Linked DNA regions of Homo sapiens: region 1 is linked to region 2. The links come from fine-mapping of genetic effects on gene expression. Tissue or cell type: whole blood. Region 2 holds a variant in brackets; the other region holds the start of a gene. All regions are shown on one strand. Distances are from middle to middle.

The links. PIP is the estimated chance that this variant, and not a neighbour inherited with it, causes the effect.
Region 1: it holds the start of LINC00398, and the variant in region 2 is fine-mapped to the expression of LINC00398 in whole blood (TOPMed, PIP above 0.99).

Annotation. Positions count from the first base shown.
Region 1 is chr13:30,800,829-30,806,113 of GRCh38, forward strand. It overlaps LINC00398 (long intergenic non-protein coding RNA 398), which reads left to right and starts at 2,378. Exons shown (of 2, transcript NR_047012.1): 1 at 2,378-2,764. RefSeq lists a silencer at 2,153-2,272 and an enhancer at 4,431-4,931.
Region 2 is chr13:30,753,089-30,758,373 of GRCh38, forward strand. ALOX5AP (arachidonate 5-lipoxygenase activating protein) reads left to right here. Exons shown (of 5, transcript NM_001629.4): 4 at 2,856-2,937. It overlaps LOC124903146 (a long non-coding RNA gene), which reads right to left and starts at 2,511. Exons shown (of 3, transcript XR_007063743.1): 1 at 2,423-2,511. The variant T/C (reference allele first, on the strand shown) is at 3,091.

The sequences.
Region 1 (5,285 bases), 48 kb after region 2:
TTGATAGGTTTTGAAAGCACCAGCCAGACTAATGAAATGGTATTGCTGGTTTGCAATACTCTTGATGGAAAAAAGTTTAAATCTGTACCTCCCTCCTTTTTTTTTCAATCAGCCACCTAAGTTCTCTAATAAATTAATATACACTTTCTGAAATTAGAAAATAAAAAAAGAAGGCTTTGTGTATTACATGCAAAAGAGAAAAGTCTAGAAGATACTAGTCAGAGGTGTCTGAGTCAAAGGTTAATCAAAATTAAAGGAAATAGTAAAGAAGTAGTATAGGAAAATGTCACCACTTGGGAAGGCTGGCAGAGAATTTTAAAATCCTCTTTTCCACAAAAGATTACAGGTAACACACATTCATGAGTCCTTTGACCCAATGCAAGGTCACAGAGAGAATGTATCTGACACCTATTTTATTTGTGTTCTGCTCTATTCCAAAAAGGACTTAAGGTGGTTTGAAGAGGAGGAGACATAAAATAAAAGTTAAATATGTACTAAAAGCCTGAGCAAAAAAGAAAGGAAAGAAAAGAGTGGCAACATAAAATAGAGGCTGGAACAAGGTGAGGGAAATTAAAAGCACACCGTGCAGGTTGATATGGTTCCTTCCTGTGGGCCGTGAGTTTGGCTCTAGGAGTTAACTGGGAAAGGGAAACAGATGAATATTAAACATAAAAGCAGATCGATTGCTTAGGAGACCACTATTTTTGGAATCCAGGAATGGTAGGCCTTTCTCCTGCAGGCCTTTCCCCACCATCTGTATAATGTACTAAGCCACAGCCCTAATAGCATAATAGCATCCTGTATCTGATGTGGCCTCAAGCGGTTCAGAATTTGGAACTGTGGATCTGCTTAGGACTTCAGTTTCCTTGTTTCATAATCTGCTCCCGAATACCCCATATCTGGGCATATTCTTATTTGATTCAGGTCTGCTGTGGTCCAGATCTGTAAGACTCTGCCCTGCAAACAGACAGTATAGAAAATATCATCAGTGACCATATTATTTAACCTCCACATTATCACCCACATCCTCATGAGTGTGAGGGTCCAAATGGTACTGATAAGAAAAGTTAGTAAGAGGCAAGGTCACCTGCAGTGTCTGGGGTAACAGACACCACATCTCTGCAAGCCCCAGCCTTCAGCCTGCCAGGTGGAGGGGCAGACTCCATCTGATCTCAGAAAATTTGAGAACCGTCCAGGCACAGTGGCTCACACCTTTAATTCCAGCACTTTGGGAGGCCAAGGCTGGTGAATCACTTGAGGTCAGGAGTTTGAGACGAGCCTGGCCAACATGGCGAAACCCCGTCTCCACTAAAAATACAAAAATTATCCGGGCATGGTGGCACGCACCTGTAGTCACAGCTTCTCGGAGGCTGAGGCAGGAGAATTGCTTGAATCCTGGAAGCGGAAGTTGCAGTGAACTGAAATCATACCACCGCACTCCAGCCTGTGTGACAGAAACAGACTCTGTCTCAAAAAAAAAAAAAAATTGAGAACCTTCCCAGGGCCCACCTACAGTTGACTCTTGAGTAATGAAGGCTTTAGGGGTGCCAATCCCCACACAGTTTAAAATCTATATACAACTTTTGACTCCCCCAAACTGAACTACTAATAGCCTACTGTTGACTGGAAGCCTTATTGATAACATAAATAGTCGATTCACACATATTTTGTATGTTAATGTATTATATACTATATTCTTACAATAAAGTAAGCTAAAGAAAAGAAATTGTTATTTAAAAAATCATAAGGAAGAGAAAGTATATCGACTACTCATTAAGTGGAAGTGGATCGCCATGAAGGCCTTCAGCCTTGTGGTCTTCTGAGTAGGCTGAGGAGGAGGAGGAAGAGGAGGGGTTGGTCCCGCTTCTCAGGGGTGGCAGAGGCAGAAGAAGGTCCACCTCTAACTGGACACACACAGTTCAAACCTGTGTTGTTCAAGGTCAACTGTACACGCCACCGAGACCAGAATGGGTGGTTTGATATTTGTCAGTGGCAACAATTCAATATTCTATCCTTTAGATGTTTTCTCACTCTGGTCACATTTAATGTGTTTAATTGATGCTGTGTGGAAGTTTCTTCACGTTAGAGGATAAATAAGCCATTCCCTTTGATAGGAGCCTGGGGCTTTCCCTGCGAGGAGGGCACTTTGGGAGCAGCCTTCTCATTAGAGGGCAATTAGCCGGGCTCCCGCACCCGGTGCCCTGAGCGGGGCTCCTGAGTAGGCAGGGCAGACGCGCCATCTAGTGGCAGCTCTCAGGACGTCCACACGCCTGCTCCTGCGGGCTCCCGCGCCCTGGGGTGGCAGGCACCGGCATGCTAGAGGTTAACGAGGAGGTTCCCTCCTTCCAGCGTGGATGAGCCTTTCCGTGAGGGTGACCGGAAAGGCGCCTGGGCTGGTGACGGTGTCAAGTGTAGGCAAGAAATACGGCTGATCAAGAAGCGACTTCACCTCCCTCGCACAACACTGAGTCCCTTTGCGGCAGGGGCCCTCCCCGCCGCGAACCCTACTTGGAACCTTGCGCCATGCGATGTCTCTCTCATTCTAGGCCACGGAAGCCCTGGGTCACCCTTTCAGCCTGGTTCTCTCCGGTGGTGCTGGCTTGTTTCTCCTGTCTGTTGGGGTCAGCTGCGTCCAGCCTCGGCTCCTGCAGGATTGCCCGGGCAACCCAGAGGAGATGGGCGGGCGTGGAGGTCCTCCCTGGATGACCCTTCCCACCATTTCAACATCATTAGGAATTTAACAGGCTTTTGCAAGAAGGCCCAGGTACGCATCCCCCCATTTATAGTAGGATTTCCAGGACAAAATGTATTCCACTCTCTAAACAACAAGCAACATGTATACAACCCATTCATAAGGTAAAGATTCCCTTGCCTACACCTAGCTTCTCCTGCCCAAGCATGGCCTTGTCGTTCTCTTCCCCAGGTCAAGTTCAGGACCTAGCAGCTGGGAATGCACATTTTCCAAGTTAAGAGTGGAAGAGTCCCAGCTTGGCTTAGATGGAGTCACATATAGGATTCAGGTTTGCCTTGGCAGGTCTGATGGACCTTGGTGAGGGTCCGCCAGCAGCTGTGCACAGCAGCTGCCCAGGGCCATGCAGCAGGCACCGCACTCCCCTTCCAGGAAGGATTCCAGGCCCAGCTACAAGGAGCGTGGCTACTGACAGCTGTCCACTCACAGCTCGTCAGACTAAGCTTCAGCTTTCAAAAAGGACTGTGCCCTCCTTGGGCTGGCCCAGGCCCACATAAGAGCAAGGCAGTGGCCCAAAGGCCTGGCATTTCTGCCCACCACGGGATTCCTCTCCTGGGTGGTCTGTGCTCCAGAGCTCTCTGTGGGGCTGGCTTACTTCTCCCCTGGCCCCTCCACAGGAGTTACTCAGCTATAGCCCCTCTGCACACATAACTCTATCTGGGAGCCTTTCCCGGAGGATGCAACCTAACTGGTTGGCTCATCCTATAGAAGCCAGTGTCCTTGACTTTTTCAGGTGATGAACCTCTTTTGAGAGGATGCTGATAACTGTAAGCATCTTCCCAGGATTTGCACATGTCCAGTGTTAGAGTGCAGGTCCCCCAAGGCCATCCCACGGGCCTTCACAGGGAGTCGGGTTGAGGACTTCTGACTGAAGGAGGTGGGGAGGAGGCGAAGTCGGGGAATGAGGAAGATGGGGCTGGGGGATAATAACAGGGCTTCCGGCAATGGAGAGGAGGGTTAATTCTCATTTCTGACTCACAGCGCAGCCTCCCATGAGTTCATGGATTCTGTGGGAAAAACCAAAAGCCAATTCCCTCAAGTGCTATGTCAGGCCCTGCAGGCAGGTGGCCGGCGGTGGCCCCATATGGCTCTGGCACAATGAGGGCTTCAGAGAACAGAGCTGCCTCTGCCTGGGGAGTGCCAGTGGCATCAGCAGCAGGGGTGGTGCCCAGTCACCCATGTGGCAGAGGCTGGCTGGGCACCGTCTCCTCTGGGTAACATGGTGCCCACCAAGCCCTGGAAGCAAGGCCTCCCAGCACCTTTGCAAGCAGCAGATATCATCTAGCAATGTCCAGCTGGATGGAAAGAAGATACAACAGCTGGAAAGTGGCATTGGCTGACCTCCTCCAGAAAGTCTCTTTCCAAAATAATTGGCAAGGGTTTCAGGTGTTAGATGTTCTTCACTGACAGGTGGAGAAGGAGCTAACAAAACAAGATTGTGCAGGAATGAGAAGTCGTATTTAGGATGTACGACAGCAGACACACAGCACACACACACACACACACACACACACACACACACACACACACACACACACCAGGGGCTGTTTTCAGCACTCACTTATATTAATTGATTTAATCCACATACAGCCTCATGTGCTAGCTCCTATTATTATCTCATTTTACTCTCAAAAAAACTGATGCACAGAAAGGTTTAGCAGCCTGCTAAAGTCACGCAGCTGAAAAGTGGCAGAGCTGGGATCTGAGCCAGGAAGCAAGGTACAAGGTCTGTGCTCTTCATCTCCTTCTATGCTGGCTGTATGCTTGCTAGCGGCCATGAACTTGGACCTTGGGGTGGGAGGGCTCTGCGTTCATTCCCAGCCCCCCTTGTTACTGGCTGTGTGATTTCAGGTCGGTTTCATTCTTCTCTTTGACTCAGTTTCCTCAACTGAGTGTAAAATGATAGTGATCCTACCTCATAAACATGTGTGAGGCTTAAATGAGCTAATTATGTAAAAGATTTTTGCTGCCACACAGAAAAATGCTTAGTCTGACATTGAATATATATGAAATTTTTGGATCTGCGCCACCCACAGAACTCAGAGTAGGTTCTTTAAATAAACTTCTGCCCCAGACTCCCAGGCCAGCCCAGCCACTGAAGGCACCAAGACAGGAGCCCTGTGTCCGCTCCAGCCCTGAGGCTCCGGAAGCCAGGCAAGAGCATTTCCCGGTGGATTCCTGGCTGGGCCCAGCCTGGGGCCTCTCAGTGCTCCTGGTAGCCTTGCATTTTCTATCTTCAAGGGAAGCTTGAGTGCTGGAAGCCTGCCCGCCCCTGCACATTCCTACCAGCGCCTGAAATCAATGATGCCCTTGTTCTCCTTGGAAGCGTTGGATGTGTGGGAGAAGGTTGAGGGCACACTGTCATCCCGCCAAGCTGTCTGGAAAGCTGGAGGGTGCATGAAAGGCTGGGGAGCACCCAGTCCTGCATAGGTACCTCCTGCTTCAAATCAGCCAGATCCAGGGACTCACACCATGGCATCAATGTGAGGAGCACTATAAGAGGATACCCTTCTAGTGGGTTTCAAAGCACCTGATT
Region 2 (5,285 bases):
CTGGCGGTGAGGCACAGGCCAGCTGGCAAGATGGACCACAGAAGTCAGTGAATGAAGACAATGACAAGGGTGGGAAGCGCCATATGGGAAGAGAACCAAGTTCAGTGATAGAGAGCAGAGGTGAGGCGGCAGCAGAAACCACTTAAGGGACACCACGTGGCACTCCTTCTGTGCTGAGAAGGCTGTCAGTAAGCTCACCATTTATTTCCTATTTTCTCTCCTGAGTTAAATAGGAAACATGTCTCGCATTACTTGAAAAATCAAGTCAAACTATGCTCTTACTAGGAGTTATGGTTCTTTTTATGTCTTAGATGATGCTTGATCTAGATGAATGCGGACTTGCTGTAGCTAGATAAATACAATGGGAGTTTGAAGGTGTTTCGTAGCCCTGGAAATAGGTATTTCCTGTCAAAACAAGCTTTGTCATTGCCAGCAGACAAAAGCATCAGTAACCTTGGTTGATAATCGTCATTTCTTAGGAATAAAGTAGACTGTAGAATTTTTTTTAGCAGAAAGGAAACCCAAAGATAATTCTAGTGCAAATCCCTCACTTTATAGAGCAGAAGCTCAAGTCCCAGAGGAACAAGTGGCTTGAACGAACATCAGAATTTTAGGGGCTGGATTTGTACCCTCCTGGTGCCAGCAGCCCACTTCCCTGCAGGAGGCACTCACCTTCCTTGCACAGGGGTATGAGTGTGGCCATTTTCCACCCATAATCTCTGTTAGCTCATGTTCAATTGGGTTCCCATTGAAAGAAAAATGGACCAGTAAGTTGGAGCAGAATCATTCAGATGGTATAACATAAGGAAAAACTTTGCCCAAGGCAAATCGTGATTGTGACAGCTTTGTGATTTTTAGAGAATAGCATGGGCCAGGCACAGTGGCTCATGCCTGTAATCCCAGCACTTTGGGAGGCCGAGGCAGGCAGGTCACTTGAGGTTGGGAGTTCGACAACAGCCTGACCAACATGGAGAAACCCTGTCTCTACTAAAAATACAAAATTAGCTGGGCGTGGTGGTGCATGCCTGTAATGCCAGCTACTCGGGAGGCTGAGGCAGGAGAATCACTTAAACCTGGGAGGCGGAGGTTGCGGTGAACCAAGATAGCACCATTGCACTCCAGCCTGGGCAACAAGAGTGAAACTCCGTCTCAAAAAGAGTTCACAGTTTCTCTTTTGCTTTGATTTTCTTATCTGCCGGATAACAATAGTATTTTGGAAGGCAGGAGGAATTGTGGAAAGAAATGGGTTTTGGGGAGTGGCTGATTGGAGGCAAATCCAAGGACACTCATTGCTGGTGTGTGACTCCAGGCAGTTACTCAGCTTTTCCAAGCCTCAGTTTCCTTATTGTAAAACAGGACCATGGTCTAGCTAGTAGCATTCCTATGGTGAGTGAAATAATATGTATAAAGCTCCTGACACAGTGCTTGGCATATATCAGATTGAGCCATGTAAAACTGCCAATATCTGGCTATTTATGACCTACAAAAATAGCATTTCATATGATTCCACCTAACATCTGAAGCGCAATAAATGTTATTATTGATAATGCAGGTGGTGGTGATAAAGTTTTGAAATCAGAAAGACCTGGCTTCAAATTCCACGCCTTCACTGGCCTGACTTATTTTCATTCATTTGACAAATATTATTTTGAACACCCCTATGTGCCAGGCACTATGCCAGGCTCAGAGATGATCTAGGAAAAAGACAGATGTCCTCATCTGTCTTAGGCTCTTGTGGCCTAAGCCTAAATTTCCTCGTCTGTCAAATGGTGACAGTAACACACTCCTTACCAGAGAGCTGGGAGGATTGGAGACTCAAGTTCCCAAAACGCCAGGAGCACTGCGGCAGGTGAAAAGTATTCCCTCAATGGCGGAAGTGTTTAAATTGCTTTTATATCTGTAGCTCTAGATAACACTAGTTCCAGCTTAGTTAACTCCCAGCTCCAAGCCTTCAGGACTTCATAGAGTTATTGGGGTGCTGCTCTTGGCAGTTTCCCAAAAAGCTAGAATGCAGAGGGAATCTCCTTCCCAAAAAGCTAGAATGCAGAGGGAATCTCCTTCCCAAAAGGCTAGAACGCAGAGGGAATCTCCTTCCCAAAAGGCTAGAACGCAGAGGGAATCTCCTTCCCAAAAGGCTAGAATGCAGAGGGAATGTCCTTCTCTTCTAAATGGTAGCTGTTAGTTCAAGAAAGGTTAAACATTGTGCTGTGGGGAGGCTCAGGGGTGAAGGGTGTACTTTTAAGAGAACCAGTTTCAGAGCTGGGTTTGGGGTTTAAGCCCTACCCTCTGCCCCCTTTTACGAGCTGACAGCCTTATGCAAGCCTGGTTGACCACCTGAACCCACGTTTCCACATCTGGAAATAGAAATGTGGGTACTAGTTATGTTGAAAGGACTCAGGTTAGATGATAGATATGCAAATACCTTGGAAACCAGGAGTGTCCAGTCTTTTGGGTTCCCTGAGCCACACTGGAAGAAGAGTTGTCTTGGGCCACACATAGAATACACTAACCCTATCAATAGCTGATGAGCTAAAGAAAAAACGTTGCAAAAAAAATCTCATATTTTTAAGAAAGTTTATGAATTTGTGTTGGGCTGTATTCAAAGCCATCCTGGGCCACGTGCGACCCGCAGGCTCCGGGTTGGACAAGTTTGTTGTAAACAATGCCATGATGCCGGCATAAGGTCGTTACCAGTATTAGGAAGGTTCTCAGGTTTCCTCTAGCCCTTGGGCTCTTTTCCTGAAGTGCGTGTGTCTTCTGCTAGATTTTGTGACCAATGTTGATTGCCTAATTGGGCTAACAGCATGTTTTGGTGGCTACGAAACTGACACAGGTGTTTTCATTTCTCCACTTAGTTCCTGCTGCGTTTGCTGGACTGATGTACTTGTTTGTGAGGCAAAAGTACTTTGTCGGTTACCTAGGAGAGAGAACGCAGAGGTAGGTAACTGGGACTACTAAAGAACTGTGGAGCGATTCCTGATTTTTGAGCAGGAAGAGTGACAATTCAAAACAGTATTTGACTAGATTCACGGCTCCGTAGCATCCCCTTGGGTGGGAGGGGGAAGGCTGACTAGGACCTCTGATTCTTCT[T/C]TCCCTGAGCTTTGAAGGCTCTGAAAATACAGCTGGGGGGACTTGCCCAGTTTTCTTATTAAGCAATTCCTCCGCATGGTGCTGGCTTTCAAAGGGTGCTTCAGTGCTGTTTGCTGCACGTGCCTTGCAGCCCCACACCCTGCACTCCCGCCCTGCAGAGTCTGGCGCTGGAATGACATTTTAGGTCTGGGTTCCCAGGCCTCCTGAGAGTGAAATGTTTCATTGTTTGTCTAGAGAAATGAGAACTAAAGCTTGCACCTTGTGATAAGTTGTCCTGAGGAACATATCTTTCAGGGACCAGAAGAAAGAATGTTGGGAAAATAAGATGCAGTAAGATGCAGACATGACAGCAGGGTGCAGCGGCTCACGCCTATAATCCCAGCACTTTGGGAGGCTGAGGTGGGTGGATCACCTGAGGTCAGGAGTTTGAGACCAGCCTGGCCAACATGGTGAAACCCCGTCTCTACTAAAAAATATACAAAACATTAGCCAGGCATGGTGGTGGGCGCCTGTAATCCCAGCTACTCCATAGGCTGAGGCTGGAGAATCGCTTGAACCCAGGAGGCAGAGGTTGCAGTGAGCCGAGATTGCGCCACTGCACTCCAGCCTGGGCAACAAAAGCAAAACTCCATCTCAAAAAAAAAAAAAAAAAAAAAAAAAAAGATGCAGACACGAGACTGTGAAACTGACTAGCATCACCATTGCATTGTTTATAGATGTTGCCAGACAGAAAGCCCCAAAGCAGCACAGTACCTTCCTGACATCTGGACTAGGAAATCTAGATTTTAGTAAAATACATGCTAATACTTACAGAAGAAATGTCGGCGTTAGAGTATGCCGTCAGTTCCTTAGAGATTGCAATTCCTAATGCACTAGTATGGTTTCAGGTGCCAGGAACACGTTCTGTGAGGCTGCTGCCCCAGGTGCTGACCCCAGCCTTCCACACCATTTTCCTTCCTTGTGTTCACAGCCGCTCTGTCTTTTACAATAGCACCCCTCTCTAGTGGCTAATGGGCTCTATGATTAGATAGCATCCTTCAGTAGTGATAAAGGCAGTGACATCCTAGGGAGGTCAGCGGGTGAAAGCGCTATATCTGGAAAACCTGAGAGCCTGTGAAGCTCAAGGACTTGACGGGGTTAGACCGTGAGCCGGGCTGCAGCTGGAAAAAGAATGACTGTTCTTTCAGCAGATCCTTCCCTGTGCCATCTCTTTCTTCATTCCTCTCTAGTGGCATTCTTATTTATCCTCTAAAACCACAATTCCATTATCTCTCCTATTCTTATCAACACTGCCCTAAATGATATTCTTTATTCTCTTTTGCCCTGGAAAACCTCTATCATGCCTTTTCCCATGTGATTACCTCGTTAAGAGTGGGGGTGGAATGTCTAGCAATGAAATAAGAGGGTCTTCTCTTTTGCCTGGCTCCCTATGCAGCCCTATCTTACCCCCTGCAAAGTCCCAGGGATGTGGCTCAGTCACTGCTCCTCTCTTCATCTGTCACCACTTGCTTGAGATCCTACAGCTGCTTTAATTCCGAGACCATCTGCAGAACATGACAAAATTTGTCCACCTACCCACATGTCCTTTTAACTTTAAAGGCTTTACTAACTGATTCCTATTAGGGAATGAACAGAGGTGGCAAAAATAAACAATAGGAGATTGATTTACAAGAAATCTTTAAAATAGTAGATTTCTTCGGACCTCATTGAAATATAAATGGCCTGCCTTCTTGTGTCCCTCCCTGGTCTCCCTCTTTAGGTGATAAGAAGAAGATCCTGCCAGCCCCATAACCCGCCATCTGCGCGGGTTCTAGACCCCCTTCTCCTCCCCTCTGGCCGTGGTAGGCATTACTGATGAATCATGGTGCTCTTTCTTCCAGAGACCAAACCTGGCCTCGGAATCCTTCTTAACACAGATACTGCTTAACACAACCACTCTGAGCAGCTGTCATAAGTAGAAGTAATAGATACTAGAAGAAATGTCTAAGCCTAATCTAGACCAAAATACGGCCTGATATAGATGCAAGCCAGAGGGGCTTTATGGTTAAATGCAAGGAGATTTTCAACCCTGCCGTCTAGAAGCTACTTGCTGAGATCTTCTTCAGTTGGGCCCATCTCCTCCCCAGGCCTCTCTTCTGTTCCTGGGCTATGTCACACTTGGACTCTGCAGACACCTAATGCTCTTGGGACCTGCT